Linked DNA regions of Homo sapiens: regions 1, 2, 3, 4 and 6 are each linked to region 5. The links come from fine-mapping of genetic effects on gene expression. A gene starts in region 5. Each other region holds a variant in brackets. All regions are shown on one strand. Distances are between the middles of the regions. Region 1 overlaps SART3 (spliceosome associated factor 3, U4/U6 recycling protein). Region 2 holds the start of SSH1 (slingshot protein phosphatase 1). Region 3 overlaps SELPLG (selectin P ligand). Region 4 holds the start of SELPLG (selectin P ligand). Region 5 holds the start of TMEM119 (transmembrane protein 119). Region 6 overlaps ACACB (acetyl-CoA carboxylase beta).

Region 1 (4,087 bases), 75 kb after region 5:
TCTGCTGAGAAACAAAAGTTAATTTCACAGAAAGATCTGCACTTAGCTCTACTTATATTTGGAGTCAGATTAACCTGTTTGTAGTTAATTGTACTAAAAAGAATAAGACACTTGGAAATAGAGGATCATGAATTCACCACACTATGGCCCCTGGCTGTGGGGCTTGGGGGAAGCCCTGTGACCAGCAGCATACGGGCTTTGGGGTGGGCGCCCTCCTGCAGCCTTCTCCCTCTGTCCCAGGCCTCTCTTTCTCTGGGGCCTCCAACCAGGCCCCTTGAGTCCCTCCATTGCAGTGCCTCTTCTCCTGTCTTTCCTTCTTGCCCCCTCAGTCTCCTGCTAAGTCCTTTTGTGCCCCATTTTGAGTAGTAAGTGGTTTCATTACTGTCTACCCACTGCCCACTCTCCCTCCCCTTTATCCAGGTTAATGGAGAGAAAAAGAGGATGAAATGAGGGAGCGGGTGAAGGCACAGAAACACGAGGGCTCACCTGGGCACCTGGGCTGCTGGCCCTGTGTCCCATCCACCTCTTGGTTTATTTGCTGGATTTATACTGGTCCATCTGTCTTTTTCCTTCTTTCTTTCTACTTCTGCAGCACGTACAAGGTGTGCTGAACTTGGAAGGGTTATCTGAAGTTACAGTGCATAGCAGCACTCGGGAAGGAGAGTAGGGTGGGGAAATAAGCCTGTAGACAGAGGATGCGGTGGTGGGGAAGGTAACCTGTTGGTGGGTCGTTTGCTGTGGCCTGGTCTGCTGGTCTCCGGGAGGAAGCCCAGTGCCTGCCCTGCAGGAGGAGGTTGCGTCCCTAGTCTGCGGGATCTGACTTGGTTCTGGATCTTGCCTCTTCCAGGGCCTGGCCTACGTGGAGTATGAAAATGAATCCCAGGCGTCGCAGGCTGTGATGAAGATGGACGGCATGACTATCAAAGAGAACATCATCAAAGTGGCAATCAGCAACCCTCCTCAGAGGAAAGTTCCAGAGAAGCCGGAGACCAGGAAGGCACCAGGTGGCCCCATGCTTTTGCCGCAGACATACGGAGCGTAAGTGCTTGCATGGTAGACTAGTGCAAACTTCGTCCTGGCTGGCACCAGTTCATGGATCACGGGGGGATTAACCCGGGATGAATTAGCTTCCTGTTAGGACAGAAAAGCCAAGATGTGCTGTTCCTTGTGGTAATCACTGTGGTTCCACTGGAGCAAGGCGTCCAGAGCAGGATGCAAGCCTAGGCAGTGACCTCTGCCTGGTACTGGCCAATTTACACTTGTCATTTATTTCAGACAGAAATAAGGCAGTGATTATTTTAAAGTCCCCTTTGCCAGTTGGATCTGTGTGTTTACAAAGAAATCTCATACCCATGTGTGTGCCAGTCTACGGCCCTAGCTATGATCCACATAAGCTGTGCTGTTCGCTGGTTTGGGATGAGGAGGAGATAGCAGAATTGCCAGGTGACTGGTGAGGTCTGAGAGGTGATAGTCACACTGATCCCCTCTGAGTGTGACTGGTGCTCAGGGTTGATCTTTGCCAAAACTGAACAAGGCCAAGTCTGTTGAAGCAGTTTTTACTTCATAAACAGAATTAAGGAGGCAGGGATTATCTTATCCTTTTTTTTTTTCACCTTTTAACTTCTGGTTATATTAAAACTGTCTTGGCTTATTTTCACAAATAAATGAGGGGCCACGAATTGTTGCTTCAAAAGGTCCATTCAGTGTTTGCTCTTTTAGGAGGGGGAAGGGAAGGACGCAGCTGTCTCTACTGCCTCGTGCCCTGCAGCGCCCAAGTGCTGCAGCTCCTCAGGCTGAGAACGGCCCTGCCGC[G/A]GCTCCTGCAGTTGCCGCCCCAGCAGCCACCGAGGCACCCAAGATGTCCAATGCCGATTTTGCCAAGCTGTTTCTGAGAAAGTGAACGGGACGCTGGGAGACAGGAAATGCCTTACTTCACTCTGGCCCGGCGGACCTCCCACCACCCAGCAGTGCACTGGGGATGGACAGGCCTGGTGTGCTGCGTGCTCGCAACCACAGATGGCTCCTCGGCTTTAGACAGAAAGGGGAAGGGGTTCTAAGTCAAGAGCCTTTCAGTGCTCCCTCATATTGAGGGCAGTGGCAGAAAAGTGACCACTCTGCAGGCTGGGCCCAGGATGTGGTGTCCTGAGATAGTTTTGTATCTTAAAGACTGAGGCACAGAAGCGAAACGAGAACACACTGTTTTTGAGACACAGTTGTCCAAATGTTTCTGGCCAGCTCCGGCCCCTTTTTGTATGACACTTCTCTTCCACCCTGCACAGCACATGTGCCCGTCATTCTTTTAATTTTAAAAGATGAAATGGCAGATGCTAGTAATTCACAGAATGGCCTCTTGTGGGGGTGGGTCTGAGGGAAGTCAGCTATAAAACATTTGCTGGAGTTTTGTTCAATGGGGCTGTGCATTTTTATATTATGTGTTTGTAAATGACATGTCAGCCATTGTTTCATGTTTCCTAAAAGCAGAATATTTGCAACATTTGTTTTGTATAGGAATTATTTGTGCCACCTGCTGTGGACTGTTTTCTTTGCCTAGTGACTAGTGACCTGTGTTGTCTAAACATGAGTTTCAGCCCTTTGGTTTTGTTTAATACCATGTCAAATGCAAACTTCAATTCTCCCCATTTAGCTTTATTAAACTGACGTTCTCTTCAAAACTTCTTGCTGAATGGTACTCAGATGTGCATTCACATACAGATGTGTTTTGAAGTGGGTGTACCTTGCTTTACCTAATAGATGTGTAAATAGAACTTTTGTAAGTCAAATCCCATTGTCACTTTGATTTAAATTATTCCAGCTGTGATGTGTCTTCATTTTATAGCAGTTTGACACTGGAGCTTTTGAGCTTTTTTACCTCACATCTTTTATCAAATAATATTTACTGCTTTGAAAACAGCAACAGCATTGGCCAGTTCAGTAGGGGAAGCTTGCTTTATTAAGACACTCTGGAGAAAGACGTCAGGGAATCCTTGTATATGTCGTGGGAATCAACTCCTCATTTATCTGTTGCGTAAGTTTAAGTTTTTGTGCATCAGTCGGGTTTTCTATATTTTTTTAACTTAACATTTTTTAATATAACCGATTAAAAAGTAGACAGAACAGTAAAATAAACTCCTGTGTGCCTACCATTCAGCTTCCAGCATTCCTCAACTCCCAGCCCCTCTTCCTTCATGTCTGTTTCCCCTCCACCCTCTGTTATATTGAGGCACGTTCCAGATGTCATTGTGCTCATCCAGTAATGTTGCGGCAGGTGTCTCAGGAGGACTGAAAGGCCTTCACTCCTAGAAACATTAGTGGTAATCCCTTCATGTCATCAACTGTCCACTCAAATTTCCACCTTCCTACAAATATCAGCTCTCCTCCCTGTAAATTATTGGTTGGTAAGCCTCTTAAGTCTTAAAAGGTAGGTTCCCCTCCATCTCTTTTTTATACAAAACCAACTTTTTACTAGGCTTTACTTCTGAATTAAATTCAAGCGGCGGCTATTGACAGCAGCAAGAACCTTTGCTGTCCCACGCGTTCCTCCTGCAGTGTTCTCTGTGATGCTGCTTGGAAGGCTGATGGACTGTTCAGCTGGTGTGATGATTTGGGTAGCTCAGAGCCCTCATGGTTGGGGACCTGACACATGAAGAGCCCTGAATATCACTATGGGTGAGTGTGGCCTTACTTTTTGCTGCTTCACATTAACGGTTTGGCTTTGCCTGCAGCCAGTATTCTGACCTTAATGTCACACTTGCAGATGTCAGCCCAGGCTTGGTACAGGGGCAAACCTTTTCAGGCTTGAGCAGAACCCAGTTAGGTTCCGGGTGTTGACTGTTCTAGAAATGGATTTCCAGGACTACATGAGTGGGTTTGTGTGTTTTCCCCAGAAAATCCAGAACTGATGATAAATAGAAATGTGAAAAACTACTTCAGTTACTTGACTGTTTGTTAGTAAAAAAAAATCAGTAATTCATCCTTGCCCACCTAGGTAGGCGGTTTATCCAACTTCTGGGTCTCTTGCCCATGGAAATCACCATCTTGGATCTGTTGCTCTCCCAGAACAGTATTATGAATAGGGCTAAAGGTCAGAATA
Region 2 (4,087 bases), 260 kb before region 5:
ATAGCAACACCCAGTTTCTGGCAAAAATAAAGTCAGCCAGGCGTGGTGGTGTACACCTGTAGTCTCAGGTACTCCGGAGGCAGAGGCAGGAGGATGGCTTGAGCCCAGAGTTCAAGGCTGAAGTGAGCTAGGATTGCACCACTACACCCAGTCCTGGGTGACAGAATGAGACCTTGGCTCTTAAAAAATTTTTGTAAATATTTTGACCAGGTGCAGTGGCTCACACCTGTAATCCCAGCATTTTGGGAGGCCGAGGCAGGCAGATCACTGATTTCAGGAATTTGAGACCAGCCTGGCCAACATGGTGAAACCCCATCTCTACTAAAAATACAAAAATTAGCCGGTCATGGTGGTGGGGGTCTGTAATCCCAGCTACTCGGGAGGCTGAGGCAGGAGAACTGCTTGAACCCAAGAGGCAGAGATTGTGCCACACTGCACTCCAGCCTGGGCAACAGAGCAAGACTCTGTCTCAATTAAAAAAAAAAAAAAAAAGCAAATTTTAAAAATATTTTATTCATCATGGATTTGGCATTAATTTTGATTTTCTAAAATATTGCATTAAAATACTATTTATCTTAATCATTGAGTTTTTGGGGGCACCCTCTTACATTTTGCACCCTCACGCTGGTCCCAGCCTGATTCCTGAGGCTTTTCTTAGGGACCGTTCCTGGCTCTACGGTAATGGGACAAGACAGAGAGATGGACCCATTATGATAAGGCAGACTGACACTTGCTGTGTGTTTAAGGGTAGGGTGAGGGCTACGAGATCCTGGAAATGACACTGCTTAAGGGGCAGGGAAAGCTTTTTGGAGGTGATTTCTAGCAAGAGTTAGTTGTGGGGAAGAAAAGGGCTCTCAGCTCTAAGAGGAAGTGAGAAGGGGTGGAGACTGCCTCCAAAAAAGTTGGGGTGAGTGGAAAAGCAGGCCGGCCAGAGCAGGGGGATTAGGATTGGGGGCCACGGACGGGTACCAGGATCAGATCTAGGTAGGAATTTCTTGGTGAAGAGGCCATTGCATTTGTATAGGCAGTAGTTCTCAGACTGTCGTCCCCAGACAGAAGCATCAGCATTGCCTGTGAATTTGTTAGACGTGCAAATTTTCCAGCCCTACAGCAAACCTTGTGAATTCGAAACTCTGGGAGGTGGGGTCTAGCAATCTGTATTTTCTCCAGGGGATTCTCAAACTCTCAAATTTGAAAACTAATGTAAGAGAGACATAAAAGAAAAATAAATCATAATGAAACAACATGCATTACAATGTGGAAATGCTCAGCCACTACTCCCTTAGAGGACACAGGGGCATCTCAGAAGCATGGGCCTGCCAATAATCAATGTGCTTGGATTTGAGAAATAAAATATTCTCTACTCAACTGAATTTTGTCCACAATTTTCCCTTATATTTGACATTTAAGTACCTATGACTGTCTGTCTACCTAGAGTGCAGCTACAGTTGTGGGCACCTTGTGTGGGATGCTCTAATATTAGCAGAGGCGTTGCCATCCATTACCTCCTTTTCCCTAAGGATGGATGAACAACTCTTGACAAAACTCTCAAGCAAAACAAAGTGTATTTTCCCTTCCTTTCCCTCCCCTCCCCTCCTCTCCCCTCCCCTCCCCTCCCCTCCCCTCCTCTCCCCTCCCCTCCTCTCCCCTCCCCTCCTCTCCCCTCCTCTCCCCTCCCCTCCCCTCCCCTCCTCTCCCCTCCCCTCCTCTCCCCTCCCCTCCTCTCCCCTCCTCTCCCCTCCTCTCCCCTCCCCTCCCCTCCCTTCCCTTCTCTCTTTCTCTCTGTCTTGCTGTGTCACACAGGCTGGAGTGCAGTGGCACGATCTCAGATTGCTGCAACCTCTGCCTCCCGGGTTCAAGTGATTCTCCTGCCTCAGCCTCCTGAGTAGCTGAGATTATAGGTGCCCGCCACCATGCCTGGCTAATTTTTTGTATTTTTAGGAGAGACAGGGTTTCAACATAGTCACCTTTCTGAAAATTCAGTAAAAAATACCAGGCTAGCCATGGTGGCTTCTGTCTGTAATCCCAGCACTTTGGAAGGCGGAAGCAGGAGGATTGCCTGGGCAACATAGTTAAACTTTTTTTTTAAAGGAGCTGGGTGTGGTGGTGTGTACCCGTTGTACTCAGGAGACTGAAGCAGGAGGATGATTTGAGCCTGGGAGATGGAGGCTGCAGTGAGCTATGATTGTGACATTGCACTTCAGCCTGGGTGACGGGAGTGAGACCCTGTTTCAGAAAAAAAGTGAGAGAAAGAGAGGAAGGAAGGAAGGAAGGCAGGAAGGAAGGAAGGAAGGAAGGAAGGAAGGAAG[GAAGA/A]CTAGTGTTGATGCATGAAATGGAGTTAGGTTCTGGCTTCAAATTACTATAAATGGGTTTTTCACCCAGGAAACATTTTGTGGGAATGGAGCAATTCTTGTTGGGGAGACTGTCCAGTGCATTGGAAGACATTTAGCATCCAAGGCTCTTGCACTCTAAATGCCAGGAGCTCTCCCCCTCCATCAGCAAGACAACCACAAACATTCCCACAAATCCCCTCTTAGAAACGCTCCGTAGAAGCTACAGTGCCCCCCACTAGAATCACCTTTGAGATGAATCGTGCTGAGACCCTGTGAATAACATGGAGGAGGTCACAGCCCCAGGACAGAGGGAGGGACGGGGAAGAATCCAGGAGGCTGCGTGGGTTTCCTGTTGGGCAGTAAGACAAATTTGCTAAGCTGCGGGGCAGGCTGGGACCACTGCGTTTGCGAGTGCTTGTGCAACATGCAGAGGTTGGGGGTGGGAGCCGGGAGATGAGATTTTGGCTAAAAGAAAAGTTTCCTACTACTAAGTCAAGCCAGAATTGCCTTCTTGGTATCTTATTCCATGTTCCCCTCTCCATCCCCATAACTGGTCACCTCTCCCCGGGACAACAGCAGCAGCCTCCTCCCTGGTCTCCCTCAGCCCTCTGCCCCGTGGTCCCTCATCCACGCAGCAGCCGGAGCGATCTTTCCAGAGAGGATGGAGACTCCAGCCATTCCTCCCCTCTTCCCTTCCCTGAGTGCTGGCCTCCGGTTGACAAACTTCTTCCTGCTTCAGGGCACGCTGATCCCCCCTGCTTGGAGAGCTGTCTCTCTGTTCTTTCACCTGTTAATCCTGCTTATGCTCAAGCCCAAGCCTCAGAATAAAGCTCTTCTGGGAAGCCTTCCCTGACCTCCAAGGAGTTGGCTGGGTTTCAGAACACCCAGAAAGAATTCATTGAAAAAGATTAGCAAAATACTTTTTTAAAAACGTGCCTAATAACTTGATTAACCTCTGCAAAATCAGGCGAATCTATTTTGCTTACTGTTTTTGTTTTTTGTTTTTTGTTTTTTTGAGACCGAGTCTCGCTCTGTCGCCCAGGCTGGAGTGCAGTGGCGCGATCTCAGCTCATTGCAACCTCCGCCTCCCAGATTCAAGCGATTCTCTTGCCTCAGCCTCCCGAGTAGCTGGGACTACAGGCGCGCACCACTGCGCCCAGCTAATTTTTGTCTTTTTAGTAGAGACGGGGTTTCACCATGTTGGCCAGGATGGTCTCGATCTCTTGACCTCGTAATCCGCCCGCCTCAGCCTCCCAAAGTGCTGGGATTACAGGCGTGAGCCACCGCGCCCGGCCCCAGGACGTCTTTTATTTCCTGGTCGCTGTACAGTCCTGTCTGCACGGTCGCCGGGCCTCAGTTTCCCCAGGCAGAGCAGCGGGCAGGGCCCCTGGGGCGTACGGGCTCCGGGCGGCGCGCGCGCCCCCGAGTCCCAGGCCTGATAGCGGGGCGCGCGGGCGGGGGCGCGTGTGTCGGGCGCGCGAGGGACGTGATCGACCAGCCGAGGCCTCGGGCAGCCCTCAGGGCCCCCGCGCACGCGCGCCTCCTCGTCCCGCCCTGCCCGCTTCCCCGCCCACTCCGCGCACTGAGGCCTGCGCGCGCCGGCGCGGGAGGCGGGAGCTGGGGGCGGGGGCGGTGGCGACGCCGAGGGGGAGGGGCGGGCCCGGCCCGGCTCGGCCCGGCCGCCCGCGCGCGGCTCCAGGAGGCCCCGGGCCCGGCCCGGGCGGCGGTGGCGGTGGCGGCTCTAGCTCGAGACG
Region 3 (4,087 bases), 25 kb before region 5:
TCTGCTTATGGACTTCGTAAGTGGTCAATTAATCTATTTATGAATTCTGTGCAGGTACTACTTTACTCTTATGATAGATTATAAATAATGTAATACTTGAAATTAAGAAGGAGTGACATGAGGTCGGGCGCAGTGGCTCATGCCTAATCCCAGAACTGTGGAAGGCCAAGGTGGGCAGATAACTTGAGGCCAGGAGTTTGAGACCAGCCTGGCCAACATAGTGAAACCCCGTCTCTACTAAAAATACACAAATTAGCTGGGTGTGGTTGTGCATGCCTGTAATCCCAGCTTCTCAGGAGGCTGAGACAGGAGAATCACTTGAACCCGGGAGGTGGAGGTTGCAGTGAGCTGAGATAGCGCCACTGTACTCCAGCCTGGGTGACAGAGCAAGACTCCATCTAAAAAAAAAAAAAAAGAAAAAAGGAGTGACATGAAAAGTTAATAGAACTAGAAGCAGAAGCACTAAATCTTTCTACACCCCAGTGGATTGTCTTGTCCACAAATAAAGTGGCTTAACCAAAATGGAGAGGGAGGCAAATCAATTTCTATGCACCATCTAGAAGAAGTTAAAGGGCCCTCCTGGATGGCTTTATTCATGTTGATGAGTAATAATAATAACTGCTACTGGCTGAGGATCTTCTCCATCCCAGGCATGTCAGGGATGCCTAAGTCCCCAGTCCCTGCTCCAGACCAGACATGCTTCCAGCTGTGGCAGTAGAGGGTGGTGGTCTAGGGTGCTTGCTAAGCCCAAGGGTGAAACTGTCTTGACATCCCTCCGCCCATTGTCTCCTCCTAGGTGCCATGCCTCTGCAACTCCTCCTGTTGCTGATCCTACTGGGCCCTGGCAACAGCTTGCAGCTGTGGGACACCTGGGCAGATGAAGCCGAGAAAGCCTTGGGTCCCCTGCTTGCCCGGGACCGGAGACAGGCCACCGAATATGAGTACCTAGATTATGATTTCCTGCCAGAAACGGAGCCTCCAGAAATGCTGAGGAACAGCACTGACACCACTCCTCTGACTGGGCCTGGAACCCCTGAGTCTACCACTGTGGAGCCTGCTGCAAGGCGTTCTACTGGCCTGGATGCAGGAGGGGCAGTCACAGAGCTGACCACGGAGCTGGCCAACATGGGGAACCTGTCCACGGATTCAGCAGCTATGGAGATACAGACCACTCAACCAGCAGCCACGGAGGCACAGACCACTCAACCAGTGCCCACGGAGGCACAGACCACTCCACTGGCAGCCACAGAGGCACAGACAACTCGACTGACGGCCACGGAGGCACAGACCACTCCACTGGCAGCCACAGAGGCACAGACCACTCCACCAGCAGCCACGGAAGCACAGACCACTCAACCCACAGGCCTGGAGGCACAGACCACTGCACCAGCAGCCATGGAGGCACAGACCACTGCACCAGCAGCCATGGAAGCACAGACCACTCCACCAGCAGCCATGGAGGCACAGACCACTCAAACCACAGCCATGGAGGCACAGACCACTGCACCAGAAGCCACGGAGGCACAGACCACTCAACCCACAGCCACGGAGGCACAGACCACTCCACTGGCAGCCATGGAGGCCCTGTCCACAGAACCCAGTGCCACAGAGGCCCTGTCC[A/G]TGGAACCTACTACCAAAAGAGGTCTGTTCATACCCTTTTCTGTGTCCTCTGTTACTCACAAGGGCATTCCCATGGCAGCCAGCAATTTGTCCGTCAACTACCCAGTGGGGGCCCCAGACCACATCTCTGTGAAGCAGTGCCTGCTGGCCATCCTAATCTTGGCGCTGGTGGCCACTATCTTCTTCGTGTGCACTGTGGTGCTGGCGGTCCGCCTCTCCCGCAAGGGCCACATGTACCCCGTGCGTAATTACTCCCCCACCGAGATGGTCTGCATCTCATCCCTGTTGCCTGATGGGGGTGAGGGGCCCTCTGCCACAGCCAATGGGGGCCTGTCCAAGGCCAAGAGCCCGGGCCTGACGCCAGAGCCCAGGGAGGACCGTGAGGGGGATGACCTCACCCTGCACAGCTTCCTCCCTTAGCTCACTCTGCCATCTGTTTTGGCAAGACCCCACCTCCACGGGCTCTCCTGGGCCACCCCTGAGTGCCCAGACCCCATTCCACAGCTCTGGGCTTCCTCGGAGACCCCTGGGGATGGGGATCTTCAGGGAAGGAACTCTGGCCACCCAAACAGGACAAGAGCAGCCTGGGGCCAAGCAGACGGGCAAGTGGAGCCACCTCTTTCCTCCCTCCGCGGATGAAGCCCAGCCACATTTCAGCCGAGGTCCAAGGCAGGAGGCCATTTACTTGAGACAGATTCTCTCCTTTTTCCTGTCCCCCATCTTCTCTGGGTCCCTCTAACATCTCCCATGGCTCTCCCCGCTTCTCCTGGTCACTGGAGTCTCCTCCCCATGTACCCAAGGAAGATGGAGCTCCCCCATCCCACACGCACTGCACTGCCATTGTCTTTTGGTTGCCATGGTCACCAAACAGGAAGTGGACATTCTAAGGGAGGAGTACTGAAGAGTGACGGACTTCTGAGGCTGTTTCCTGCTGCTCCTCTGACTTGGGGCAGCTTGGGTCTTCTTGGGCACCTCTCTGGGAAAACCCAGGGTGAGGTTCAGCCTGTGAGGGCTGGGATGGGTTTCGTGGGCCCAAGGGCAGACCTTTCTTTGGGACTGTGTGGACCAAGGAGCTTCCATCTAGTGACAAGTGACCCCCAGCTATCGCCTCTTGCCTTCCCCTGTGGCCACTTTCCAGGGTGGACTCTGTCTTGTTCACTGCAGTATCCCAACTGCAGGTCCAGTGCAGGCAATAAATATGTGATGGACAAACGATAGCGGAATCCTTCAAGGTTTCAAGGCTGTCTCCTTCAGGCAGCCTTCCCGGAATTCTCCATCCCTCAGTGCAGGATGGGGGCTGGTCCTCAGCTGTCTGCCCTCAGCCCCTGGCCCCCCAGGAAGCCTCTTTCATGGGCTGTTAGGTTGACTTCAGTTTTGCCTCTTGGACAACAGGGGGTCTTGTACATCCTTGGGTGACCAGGAAAAGTTCAGGCTATGGGGGGCCAAAGGGAGGGCTGCCCCTTCCCCACCAGTGACCACTTTATTCCACTTCCTCCATTACCCAGTTTTGGCCCACAGAGTTTGGTCCCCCCCAAACCTCGGACCAATATCCCTCTAAACATCAATCTATCCTCCTGTTAAAGAAAAAAAAAAATGGGACTGGGAGCAGTGGCTCATGCCTGTAATCCCAGCACTTTGGGAGGCCGAGGCAGGTACATCACCTGAGGTCAGGAGTTCAAGACTAGCCTGGCCAACATAGTGAAACCCTGTCTCTACTAAAAATACAAAGATTAGTCAGGTGTGGTGGCACATGCCTGTAGTCCCAGCTACTGGGGAGGCTGAGGCAGGAGAATTGCTTGAACCCGGGAAGCGGAGGGAGGTTGCAGTGAGCTGAGATCACGCTACTGCACTCCAGCCTGGGTGACAGAGTAAGACTCCGTCTCAAAAAAAAAAAAAAAGATTCAATGACCCTTGTTAAAGCATGGTAAGGAAGACTTTGTTCAAGGGGAGTGGGACTCTCTCAATCACTGCAGGGACTGCAGCTATGGGATTTTGCAGTGGGGGCATTTGGGCTCAACTATGAGTACAGCAGGGGCAAGTGGGAGCTGATAGCCAGGGAACAGGGTTGGATATCTGCAGCTGGAAAATTACCAAGAGGAAACATCAGGGGAAGGGGAATTCTGGCTAAACTGACTGCTGGGGATGGGTTCTCGGTCATTTTCTACACTGACCTAACAGGATTCATACTGGAGGCAGGCCAGGGTGCTCAGACATCACCGGGGGGATGGTGGCAGATGAGGAACGTGATCAGATATAGGAGGTGATCAGATATGGGAGGTGATCAGATATGGAGTGGTGGGGGGAGGGTTGTTGCTAAGCTGACTTAGCAGAGTTCTTGTTAGAACTGGATTTTATTTATTTATTTATTTTGAGATGGAGTTTTGCTCTTGTTGCCCAGGCTGGAGTGCAATGGCGCGATCTGGCTCACTGCAACCTCCGCCTCCTGAGTTCAAGTGATTCTCCTGCC
Region 4 (4,087 bases), 34 kb before region 5:
ACATTCTCGCTTCCTCCTTCCACACACAGCCATTGGGGGTTGCTCGGATCCGGGACTGCCGCAGGGGGTGCCACAGCAGTGCCTGGCAGCGTGGGCTGGGACCTTGTCACTAAAGCAGAGAAGCCACTTCTTCTGGGCCCACGAGGCAGCTGTCCCATGCTCTGCTGAGCACGGTGGTAAGTGCTGGCTTGCAAAACCACAGGGAGTGGCTGGAGGTCCCCATGGGCCAAGGGCCTGCCTTATAGCTGCTGGCAGGCCCGGGTAGGACCGCCAGGCCCTTCTTGAGCTGCAGCACCTGGGGAGGGCAAACTGAGGCTCCTCCGACTCAAGACTAAAGTCTTCCTGGAGTCTGTGGCCTTATTCTGTGACTCTTCTGAATCCTGCTCCTGCCAACTTTTTTTTTCCTTCTTTTTTTGAGACAGGGTCTTACTCTGTCACCCAGGCTGGAGTGCAGTGGCACAATCATGGCTCACTGCAGCCTTAAACTCCTGGGCACAAGTGATCCTCCCACCTCAGCCTCCTGAGTAGCTGGGACTACAGGCGCACATCGCCGCATGCAGCTAATATTTTTACCTTTCCTAGAGATGGGGTCTCACTTTGATGCCGAGGCTGGTCTCAAACTCCTGGCCTCAAGCCTCTTGCGTTGGCCTCCCAAAGTGCTGAAATTACAGGTGTGACCCACCAGCCCCAGCCTCCCATTAACTTACTTCCCTCCCTGGCCAGTTTGCCTGCAGCGTCTGGCTTGGCGGCATTCTGATTTTGAAAATCAGAGAAACCATGAGTGTTTCCCTAGAAATGATCTTATCCTCTCCTTTCCTGGATGGGAAACTGAGGTCGGGAGAGGTGAAGGGATTTGTTTAGGGGCAGAGCTGAGATTAGGTCTGGAAGACTCCAGAAAGTAGGGGGAGTGCAGGATTTCTCTTGAAGCTGCATGTTATGGACGCATAAAAAAGTTCTTTTCAGAGAAAGATGCATTCTTCCCACTTTTTATAAGACTGAGGAAATGACACTTGTCTGTGGCAAACTATTAAAATATTAGAATTAAGATACTATTGTTAGCAAAAGGGAAAACAATAATAATAATAATAATTAGAATATTTGGCTGGGTGCAGTGGCTTACACCTGTAATCCCAGCCCTTTGGGAGGCCGAGGCAGGTGGTTGGCCTGAGCTCAGGAGTTCTAGACCAACCTGGGCAACATGGTGAAACCTCGTCTCTACCAAAAATACAAAAACTTAGCTAGGTGTAGTGGTGTATGCCTGTGGTCTCAGCTACTTGGGAGGCTGAGGTGGGAGGATCACTTGAACCTGGGAGGGGGAGGTCGCAGTAAGCCGAGATTGTGCCACTGCACTCCAACCCGGGTGGCAGAGTGAGACCCTGTCTCAAAAAAAAAAAAATTAGAATACTCTTATTAGTTTGTATTTGAGATACTTTCAGGACACTAAAAGGAAATGGTGGGGGCCAGTTGTGCCCTGCTGTACACACATTCACACACACACACACACACACACACACACACACACACACCCCATATTGTCGATATCTGGGCTTCTGTTGCCTGGAATTCTCTTCCTCTTTCCTCTTTCTTCTGTTTTCCTTTTTTTTCCATCTCTGACTTTGAGGCCCCCAGAGCCAGGCCCCTCAGTGGGCCGGGGCCTCAGAAGGTGGCTCCCAGGCCCTCAGACAGCCCCAGAGTCTCTTCCGAGGCCGTGCCCTGGGTGGTTGATGCCTCCCTCAGCAGGCTTGGCCAGCAGCCAGGGGAGTTAAACCTCAGAGAGCGGAAGGGCTGGG[T/C]TGCTAGGCTGGGCCCAGAGTGGGGCATTCAGAGGAGCTGGGGAATCAATCATCCGAGAACCTTGGAGGGTGGACAGTGCCCCTTTTACAGATGAGAAAACTGAGGCTTGAAGGGGAGAAGCAGCTGCCTCTGGCGGCATGGCTTCTGGCTGCAGGATGCCCATGGAGTTCGTGGTGACCCTAGGCCTGTGTCTCGGCTTCCTTTGCTGAACTTGAACAGGAAGATGGCAGTGGGGGCCAGTGGTCTAGAAGGAGATAAGATGGCTGGTGTGTGTGTGTTGGGGGTCTGTGTTTGTTAATCTGTCTGTCTACACAGGGGTGTTTAGAAAACTGTTTAAAGACAGTTGTTCAACTAACCAGATGTAGGTCTCATTGAATTCATTTGTGCCAAGTACCTTACTGCCTCTGGATCAGGCCAGCAAGTTTGGGTTCCAACAGGTGTAACTTGGTTCTTGGTGGGGTGGAGGGTAGGGAGGGGGGTGTAACAAAAAAATCTCAACTAACACTGTGGTTTGCAAGCCACCAAACATTAAACAGATATACAGCATATCTGTGCTATTAACTTTTCATGAGGAGGGCTGGTCACCGTGGCTCATGCCTATAAATCCCAGCACTTTGGGAGGCTGAAGCAGATGGATTGCTTGAGCCCAGGAGTTTGAGACCAACCTGGGCAACATGGGGAAAACCCATCTCTACAAAAAATTTAAAAGTAGCCGGGTCTGGTGGCATGCACCTGTAGTCCTAGCTACTTGGGAGGATCGCTTGAGCCCAGGAGTTCAAGCCTGCAGTGAGCTATGATTGCACCACTGTAGTCGAGCCTGGGCAACAGAGAAAGACCCTATCTCTAAAATTAAATAAATAAATAAACCTTTCATAAGGGCGATGATAAGTGGGAAAAAATGTCTACAGAGACTCCCTGATGTGAGTTGAGGTAGATGACGGAAAGAGGTTGCAAAGTGTCAGCTGGCAAATGTGGTGTGAAAAGTGTGAAGACAGCACGTGCTGTGCAGTTCTGTGCACGTTCCCCTGCCTCAGTCACATGTCCTCTTCTGCAGAGGCATTTAGTGAGGCCCCTGGGGATGCCAGGAGACCCAGGAGAGCTCCTGCCCTCCAAAAACTTGTGGTCTGGTGGGGGCAGCAGAGCAGACAGCCACAGTGGTTGCCAGCCACTGGGGCGAGTGTTGCGAGGGGTGTGTGCCTGCCCATCGGCTGAATCCTGGGCCTGTGGCCTGATCAGCAAGACAGCTGTGGTTCCTGCCTTCTGGAAGTTTAGGAGTCAATGTGAATACATTTTTAGAAAATAAATGAACAGCAGAAATGATTTAAACACGGGAGGTGACTAATCGTGCCTGGGGCAATCTGGAAAGGCTTCTGGGAGGACTCAGCATTTCCCTGGCCCTCTTCAACCCACAACAACCCCATAAAAAGCGGGTGCTACCATTGTCCTTGTATTCCAGCTAAGGAACCCACAGCTCAGAGAGGTGAGGTGAGTTGCCCCAGGTCACACAGCTTCTAAGGGACAGAGCTGGGGATTGACCTGGTTTGATGTGACTCCCAGGGCACAGCAGGGCAGGGCAGGGCCTGTCCTGTCTACCCAGACTTAGATCTGCTGCCTGTGCCTCAGTTATCTGGGGTCTTTCCTTCTCTTGGTGACTACTTGACCCAAACCCTGAGATGCTCAGTCTTTTGAATTTTAGCATTCCAAGATCCTGCCCGCTCTGACCACCAGTTTCAGGATTCTCAGTGCAAGGTTCCTAGCGGCGTGGAGCCCCACGAGGATCTTTCCTGAGCAGCTCAGGGCGGCCACACGGCGGGTTCTCTGGAGCTGGAGTCTGGGCCCCCTGCAGCCTGCTCCTCCACACAGCCTAGATGGGGCCCATATGGGGTCTAGATGGGGCCTGGGCCAGAAGCAGCCTGGTTTTAGGGCGAAAGAGGCAAACGAGCAGTCTCTGACCTACTCTGTTAGGCAAGTGTTGAGACAAATAGGACGTGGTCACTGGAGACGCCTCTGTCGGAGCCCTGCCCTGGCCCCACTTCTGTGGGACTGTTTTTTGGCCTTCCAGGAAGAGGAGAGGTGGAAGGTGGGGCCTGGGAGTGATCCCGCCGCTCCGGGCCTTGCTTGCTAATCAGTGTGATGGCACCGTTAGAGCCAGTGAACACAGGGGTGAGGAGGAATGAGGTCACCAGATAGTGAGAGGATGAAATCATCCCTCCGTGGGAGGGGCTTCCACATATGTCATTTTTATTGTTGTATAATACATTTACTGTAGCAAATATTAAGGAGGTATTATGCTACC
Region 5 (4,087 bases):
CCCAGAACAAACCCTCCAAACCCTCATTGACTCCCTACTGCCTCCTAGGTGACCTTCCAATACTTTAGCCCAGCTCCTGCCAATGTCTCCAACACTTACTACCCCTCCTTCAGGGGGATGCTCTGCCCAGGAGGGAGAAGCAAAGAACGAGGGGAAGGGGACTCCGAGAGCTTCCCTCAGGCTGGGCCTCTGGGGCCACCTGTGCAGGGAGCAGGCTCTATTTGGGTTGGTTGTGTCCCTGCTCCTCGACATCCCAAGGTCCCCAGACTGCAGCCCTCAGAATGTTGGGTAAGGTCTTCTTCCCCTGCTGGTGGGCCCTGGGGGAGGTTTGGCTGCCCCTGACCACCCGATGTCTGGTCTAAGACAGGTCAGGTAGGCCTGGAACACCCCTGGCCACCTTAAAGCGGGCACAGCTGCTACAACATGTCTGTGGGTGGCCACTTGCCCCTGGGACATGTGTGTGCATGAATGTGTCTGTGCGAGTATTGGTGGATGGTCCCCTGTTCCCTCGAAGATGCAGGGTTTGGGGTGATTTCCAGAGAAGATGGGAAAGTCTCTGATTTTATTTCCCAAGCAAATGACTGTCCCAGTTTTCTGGGGGTGAGCGAGGGCTGCTGGGACCATTGCAGGGAACAATGATAATCTAGGCTTGGTTCCTACCCAGAGAGCACGCACTCATCCTTCATGCACTCCCCTGTTCCAAACCCTCACTGGCTCCGTACTGCCTCCGACCTTCCGAGACTTTAGCCTGGCTCCTGTCAACATCTCTGACCCTTACTACATGATCCTCTCTTTGGTCCATGCTCCAGCCTAATCTAATTGCGGTGGCTTGTGCGTGGTGGCATTCCCAGCCACCATACCTTTACCCACGCTGGTCCTTCCATGCGGAATGCCTTTCCAGGGCCTGCTTTGCCCGCTTCTGCTCATACACAGGCATGCCCTCCAGGATGGCTTCCTACCTCTTTCCCTTGGGGGATTGATCTCTCTGTCTTGGGGTTCTCGGAGCCCTTGACCTGACCCCTTTCTGTTTGGCAAAAAAGTAATTTACCTCGGTGTCCTTCTCCCTGGTAGTCTGTGAGCTCCCCAAGGCTGGGCTGTGCCTGATTCACCTCTGGAACTTGCTTAGCACAGTGCGTGGCCTGCTGCAGGTGTTCATTGAGCACTTGCCGAATGAATGCATGAATGAATGAATGAATGAATGAATGCAAGGGGCTGCTAATCCACAGGACTCCTCAGGTCAGCCAGACGTCCCGGTTCCAAGGCCTGCCACTGACTCACCTCAGGACCCTGCTTGAACCATTAGAACTCACCCTGCCTCACTTTCCCCCTCTGTGAAATGGGGCTCCAACTCCTATTCAAGCTACTATCATTTGGGGGCATTGTGAGGCCACAGATCCCAGAACATCAGAGTCAGAGGTAGCCCAGAAAGCTTCCCACCCATCCCTACAAATGGGAAACTGAGGTCTGGAGAGGGAAGGGCAGAGTTGGGCTCCCTGTCTCAGGCTCGGACCCACCATCAGGCCTGTCTCTAAAACGAATCCCAGCTCCCACGCTGCACCCTGAGCCTGGAAGCCTGAGCCACACAAGGACGGGGAATTTTCCTTCCCACTTCCAGAGGCCTCTGAACCTCCCTGAGCTTGTCCCCTTTGGAGGGTATTGGGCAGCAGCGTGGGCAGAACCCCAGCTCACTGTCTGGGGGAGCGCTGCAGGACAGCCTTGTCTGTCTGTCTCAGCCTGCCCTGGGGACCCGAGGTCAGGGAGGAAGTGCCGCATCTGGTCTTCCCCAGAGCGAGAGTGTGAGCAAGGGTGGGATTGCGTGTGGCCCGAGAGTAGCCCCTCCCCTCCCCCTGTCCCCACCCCAAACCCTCTTAATGAAATCAAGCTGGCCCTGCGGCCCAGCCGGGGAGGGAGGAAGGAGGAGGGACGGGAGGAGGGACGGGAGGAGGGAGGGCGGGCAGGCGCCAGCCCAGAGCAGCCCCGGGCACCAGCACGGACTCTCTCTTCCAGCCCAGGTGCCCCCCACTCTCGCTCCATTCGGCGGGAGCACCCAGTCCTGTACGCCAAGGAACTGGTGAGTCCTGGGGTCCCCTCCTCTGTCCTGAGAGCCTGGAGCTATCTTGGAGCTTAGGGACTGGGGACTGTTGGAGCACTCTGGGGGGCCTCTCTAAGTGTGTGTGGGCTTTGAGTGTGTGTTTGGTGTTGTGTGCATGAGTGTGGTGGAATCTGAGTCCCGTGTGCGGTGCTGGGGTGGGCCAGGGTGGGCCGGAGTGTTGTGTGTGTGCGGCTGGGGCCTTGGTGTAGGGGGTGTGTTGCTTCCACTTTTCTGCAAGTGGATGCCAGGCTGTTGCTTCCAGGATCTGTGTGAGGGTGATGTGGACGGTATTGTCCTGTGTGCAGGGATCGGCTGTGTGTCAGGGGGTTGTGTATGTATATGTGTTGTGTGTCCGTGTGTGTTCTCTGTGTATTGTGTGCATGGGCCATGAGAGTGCTGTTGGGTGTCTCAGTGCTGTGTGAGTCGGTGTGCCTGTGTTGTGTGTCTTTATATTGTGTGTCCATGCTGCTCTGTGTGTGTGTGTGTGTGTGGAGGGGGATTGTGCCCCCAGGACCCCCCTCCCCATCCAGACCTCCAGGGCCCAGGTCCCTGTCCTTGGCTGGCCCTGGGGTCGGGGGCATGTGCAGTGCTCCAACCAGAACACCCCTCCCCCACAAGGCCACTGATTGAAGCCAGGTTTCCGTGGGCCGCCCCTCCCCCAAAGGCCACCAGTCTCTGGGTGGGGGTGGGGCAGCCCCCGGTCCCCTAGCTTCAAGTCTTGGGGCCCCCAGGCCTCAGGGGTGCATCTGCACTCCTCCACAGACTCAGGACCATCTTAGGGCATTTGCCACACTTACACACGGCCAGCCCTGCCTGACATGTCCCCAGGCAGGGAGTCCTGGGCAATCACGTGGTACCTGCTAATTGGCACCCACTGTGCACCAGGCATGGCCGCATCTTGTCCTAACAGCAGTCCAGGGAGGTGGCTCTTATCCCCATTGTACAGATATGGAAACCGAGGCTCAGAGAGGTGACATGCCCAGCCCAAGGACACATAGCCGGGAAGTGACCTCCTCTGGGATATACCAAGACAGGCTTCTCTGTCCAGGGCTCTGCTGGGCTCACCCCTGACTTTCTGTGTGACCTGGGCAGGCTGTTTCCAGTCTCTGGACCTGAGTTACCTCTAAGGTGAAGCAAGAGGCGTTGGGCCTGACCCCAGCTCCTAATGGCCTGTTAGATTCTGAGTCCTTGAAAAAATTAGGGTCCGGGGGGAGGTAGGCAGAATAATGACTTCAGAGCTGCCCAGAACAGTGCTTCATTCCACAGATGGGAAACTGAGGCCCAGAGAGGGCAGGGGCCGTCCAGGGCCACACAACCATCTTTTTTGAGGCTCTGCTGACTGCAGGTGGGGCTGGGTCCTCCATACGTTGCCCCCACCTTTCCCTGGAAGCCAGGAGGGGTTGTGGGGTGCAGGGGACTCTGAGAGTCAGGGTCTCAGCCTTAAAGAGCCAGTGGCAGTTTGTGTGTTCTCCTTTCTTGCCCTCTGCCTCTGACTTCGTGTGTGTGTGTGTGTGTGTGTTGTATGTATATGTGTGTGTAGGTGTATGTGTGCATGTGTGTGTATGTGTATGTGTGTGCATGTGTGTGTTTGGTTCTGCATTCCTTGGCGGCCAGAGCTAAAGAGGTTTCACTGAACGGGGTGAAAAGGTTGGTCTTTCACTGGGTGGCGGCCGGACCAGACAGTGAGCGCATGTTCCCATCCGGCGATGGTGCTCATTTGTCGACTCAGGGTGGGAAATTGCTGGCTGAACCTGGAGTTCGGCTAGGGAAGGAATTCAGCTACCCCAGACCCTATCTTTCCTCGGGGCTCAGCTACTTCGCACCAGGCACTCTCTGAAAGTTGTCTCATTTGGCCCTAACAGCTCTGAGAGGTGCTACCTGTGGTCACCCTGTCCCAACTTACGGATGGGGAAAGTGAGGCCCACAGGAGCCAGACCACAGAGCTGGATGCGATGGAGCCGGGATTCTTGACCCAGCCAGAACTTGAGTGGGTCT
Region 6 (4,087 bases), 540 kb before region 5:
TCGGCTTGGAGTCCGTCATTTTCCCCCAGATTTTTAACCAGGAAAAGGTCAGACAGGAGAAAATCAGACAAGATAGACAAAGAAGCAAGACCATTCAGAAAATCTGTAAGGAGAAAAGGAGAGACATTTTAGGATTTACATAATCAAGTGATTTCTCTCCTAAAGAAGCTAGTGGGGCAGGAGGCTGTTGGGGTGCTGTGTATTCCTGAAATACTGGACGAGGGGAGAGATGGGGTTCTCCTCCCTGCTCTGCCTGAAACAGGCTTGGACATATTCCTTCACCCCTCTGGATCTTAGTTTCCTGCCAAGGTTCAAGGAAGAACCTTGAAAACTGCTAAGTTAAAGAAGCCAATCACAAAAGGTCACATATTATACGATTCCAAGTATATGAAGTGTGCAGAACAGGCCAATCTTGAGAGACAGAAAACAGATTAGTGGTTGCCAGGACCTAGTGGGATGGGGATGATGGCTACAGAGTGTAGGGTTTCTGTTTGGGATGATGAAAATGTTCTAAAGCAGATTGAGGTGATGGTTGTACAGCTCTGTGAATACAGTTAAAAAACATTGACTTGTCCTTTACATGAGTGGATTGTATGCCATGTGAATTATCTCTCAATAAAGCTGGGGTTTTTTTGTTTTTTTGTTTTGAGATGCAGTCTCCCTTTGTTGCCCAGGCTGGAGTGCAGTGCCGCAATCTCTGCTCACTGCAAACTCCGCCTCCTGGGTTCAAGCAATTCTGCCTCAGCCTCCTGAGTAGCTTGGGCTACAGGCATGCACCACCATGCCTAGCTAATTTTTGTATTTTTGTGGAGACAGAATTTCACCATGTTGACCAGGTTGCTCTCTAACTCCTGACCTTGGCTTCCCAAAGTGCTAGGATTACAGACGTGACCCACCGCGCCCAGCCAAAGCTGTTATTTTTTTTTTTTAAAGACTCTTAATTATATTCCACTTTATAAATGAAAGGGAATTGTTGCTTCTGTCATCATCATCATCATTCTAGTATTATTATCATATAGTCAGTCACCATCATGGCCCTGGAGGGAGGAAGGGCGCCATCATCCCCAGTGTGGGGTATGCTTACAACTAGCATAGAAGCCCAACAAGCCTCGGGAGACTGTTTTCTGTTGCAGGGTCTAGACCAGTGCCTGGTATGCAATGAGGGCTTACAAGTGTGTATTGAAAGAATGAACCCAGGTATTCCAATCTCTAAGCCACACCTCTTTCTATCACCCTAACTCTGCCCTACTAATGAGTAGATCATTGTTATTTGAAGGAAATCTTGTTTTAAAAATGAGCCCAGTGCGGTGGCTCATGCCTGTAATCCCAGCACTTTGGGAGGCTGAGGCGGGCAGATCACCTGAGGTTGGGAGTTTGAGACCAGCCTGGCCAACATGGTGAAGCCCTGTCTGTACTAAAAATAAAAATACAAAAATTAGCTGGGCATGGAGGTGGGTGCCTGTAATTCCAGCTACTCGGGAGTCTGAGGCATGAGAATCACTTGAACCTGGAGGTGGAGGTTGCAGTGAGCTGAGATCATGCAACTGCATTCCAGCCCGGGCAACAGAGTGAGACTTGGTCTCAAAAACAAAAAAAAAAAGAAAAAGAAAAGAAAAGCCCAGGAGGCAGAGGTTGAAATGAGCTAAGATGGCACCACTGCACTCCAGCCTGGACAACAGAGTGAGACCCTATTTCAAAAAAAATTTTT[A/T]AATGGGACCTCTCTCTATGTGTTGAAATTTCTGAACCAATTTTGCCACAATTATATACTAGAAGCATTACAAAAGTGGACCACAAAGCTCAGCAGGTCAATTTGGTATCTAAAAATCCTTTTTTTTTTTTTGAGTCAGAATCTGACCCTGTCGCCCAGGTGGGAGCATAGTGGCGTAATCTCAGCTCACTGCAACCTCTGCCTCCTGGGTTCAAGAGATTCTTGAGCCTCAGCCTCCCTAGTAGCTGGGATTACAGGTGCCCCCCACCATGCCCGGCTAATTTTTGTATTTTTTGTAAAGATGGGGTTTCACCATGTTGGCTAGGCTGGTGTCTAACTCCTGACCTCAAGTGATCCGCCCACCTCTGCCTCCCAAAGTGCTAGGATTACAGGCGTGAGACACTGTGCCCTGCCATAAAGCTTTTTCTTTTTAAATTTCAACACAATGTTTTTAAAGGAAGTGGAAAAGTTCTCAATATTTCCCAGAACTAAACAATCCAAGTACTTCTTACACACTTTCAGCAGCAGAATTTGCTGATATGTTGCCAAGGCTATTTTCTAGGTAGTACACAGGGTCAGAGGGGTTTTTTCCTTTCAAGATCATCATGTGTTTTTTTTAAAGAAAAGTCAGTCAAGGGTGGCTCAATGTCAATGTAACATGCCACATTAATGGAACAAAGGGAAAAAAACCACATGATCATCCCAATTGATGCAGGAAAAGCATTTGACAAAATCCAACACCCTTTCATGATAACAACATTCAGAAAATTAGGAACAGAAGGGAACTGCAACTTAATAAAGTACATTTATGAAAAATCCACAGCTAACATCATACTAAATGGGGAAAGGCTGATAGCTTTAACCAGGAATAAGACAAGGATGCCCACTTTCACCAGTGCTATTCAACACTGTACTGGAAGTTCTAGACAAACCAATTAGACAATAAAATGAAATAAAAGACATAGAGATTAGGAAGGAAGAAGTAAAGCCACCCCTATTCACAGATTACATGGTCCTATATGTAGAAAGTGCCAGATAATACACACACAGAAAACCTTGGTATTGTAGAGGTAATAAAAATAATTAAGCAAAGTTGCAGGATACAAGATAAATACACAAAAATAGTTGTGTTTCTATACACCAGTGGTAAATAATCTGAAAAAGAAATTAAGAAAACAATTCCATTTATAATAGCATTCAAAAGAATAAAACACCTAGAAATAAATATGTTTAATTTCAATGTTTCCTTTTTCTATTATTGCCTATCACACTTGTTTCCTACCTAGGAATAAATTTAACCAAAGAAGTGAAAGACCTGCACACTGAAAACTACAAAACATTACTAAAAGAAATTAAAGAAGAATTAAATAAATGGAAAGACATACCTTGCTCATGGATTGGAAGACTTATTGTTAAGATGTCCATATTATCCAAAGGAATATACAGATTTATATGGAATTTCAAGAGGCCCCAATCAGCCAAAACAATCTTAAAAAATATGTTTGAAGATTCACATTTCCCAATTTAAAAACTTACTACAAAGCTATGGTAAACAAAACAGCATGGTATTTGGCATAAGATAGACATATAGATCAATGGAATAGAAACCTATACATCTATGGTCAATCTATTTTTGACATGGATATCAAGACCATCCAATGGAGAAAGAATGATCTCTTCAGGCCAGGCATGGTGGCTCATGCCTGTAATCCCAGCACTTTGGGAGGCTGAAGCAGGTGGATCACGAGGTCAGGAGATCAAGACTATCCTGGCTAACATGGTGAAACCCCATCTCTACTAAAAATACAAAAAAATTTAGCCAGGCATGGTGGCAGGCACCTGTAGTCCCAGCTACTTGGGAGACTGAGGAAGGAGAATGGCGTGAACCCGGGAGGCAGAGCTTGCAGTGAGCCGAGATCGCACCACTGCACTCCAGCCTGGGCGACAGAGCAAGACTCCGTCTCAAAAAAAAAAAAAAAAAAAGTATTACCTCTTTAACACCACATGGTGCTGGAACAACTGGATTTCCACATGCACAAGAATAAAAAGTTGGACCCCTACTTCATACCACATACAATCATTAACTCAAAATGGATCAAAGACCTAAATATAAAAGCTAAAACCACAAACCTCTTAGAAGAAAACATAGAAGTAATTCATCATGACCTTGGATTTGTCAATTGATTCTTAGATATGACACCACAAGCATTGGATGCTTCTTGATGAAGTCCAATTTACCATAAGAAAAAATAGGTAAATTGGACTTCATCAAGATTAAAAGCTTTCGTGAATCATAGGATGCTATCAAGAAAGTGAAAAGATAACCTACAGAATGGGAGGACCACTTGCAAACCATATATCTAATAAGAGTCTAGTGCC

What was found.
Region 1: its variant is fine-mapped to the expression of TMEM119 in whole blood (TOPMed, PIP 0.91).
Region 2: its variant is fine-mapped to the expression of TMEM119 in whole blood (INTERVAL, PIP above 0.99).
Region 3: its variant is fine-mapped to the expression of TMEM119 in blood mononuclear cells (TOPMed, PIP above 0.99). The same link has a PIP of 0.9 or more in T cells, monocytes and whole blood.
Region 4: its variant is fine-mapped to the expression of TMEM119 in nasal epithelium (TOPMed, PIP above 0.99).
Region 6: its variant is fine-mapped to the expression of TMEM119 in caudate (GTEx, PIP above 0.99).

Annotation. Positions count from the first base shown.
Region 1 is chr12:108,521,267-108,525,353 of GRCh38, reverse strand. It overlaps SART3 (spliceosome associated factor 3, U4/U6 recycling protein), which reads left to right. Exons shown (of 19, transcript NM_014706.4): 18 at 848-1,038; 19 at 1,720-3,140. The coding sequence ends at 1,897. Among named protein-coding and RNA genes, the nearest start is that of FICD, 8.0 kb to the right of the region's middle. RefSeq lists an enhancer at 1-758. The variant G/A (reference allele first, on the strand shown) is at 1,813.
Region 2 is chr12:108,857,527-108,861,613 of GRCh38, reverse strand. SSH1 (slingshot protein phosphatase 1) reads left to right here and starts at 4,031. Exons shown (of 15, transcript NM_018984.4): 1 at 4,031-4,087. RefSeq lists a silencer at 3,562-4,087. The variant GAAGA/A (reference allele first, on the strand shown) is at 2,310.
Region 3 is chr12:108,621,022-108,625,108 of GRCh38, reverse strand. It overlaps SELPLG (selectin P ligand), which reads left to right. Exons shown (of 2, transcript NM_003006.4): 2 at 797-3,214. The coding sequence starts at 802. The coding sequence ends at 2,040. Among named protein-coding and RNA genes, the nearest start is that of SELPLG, 11 kb to the left of the region's middle. The variant A/G (reference allele first, on the strand shown) is at 1,621.
Region 4 is chr12:108,629,829-108,633,915 of GRCh38, reverse strand. It overlaps SELPLG (selectin P ligand), which reads left to right and starts at 22. Exons shown (of 2, transcript NM_003006.4): 1 at 22-176. All of the region lies in intron 1 of LOC105369968 (a long non-coding RNA gene), which reads right to left. RefSeq lists enhancers at 501-550, 1,959-2,108. The variant T/C (reference allele first, on the strand shown) is at 1,791.
Region 5 is chr12:108,595,954-108,600,040 of GRCh38, reverse strand. It overlaps TMEM119 (transmembrane protein 119), which reads left to right and starts at 1,957. Exons shown (of 2, transcript NM_181724.3): 1 at 1,957-2,071.
Region 6 is chr12:109,135,413-109,139,499 of GRCh38, reverse strand. It overlaps ACACB (acetyl-CoA carboxylase beta), which reads right to left. Exons shown (of 53, transcript NM_001093.4): 2 at 1-103. The coding sequence starts at 94. Among named protein-coding and RNA genes, the nearest start is that of ACACB, 21 kb to the right of the region's middle. The variant A/T (reference allele first, on the strand shown) is at 1,709.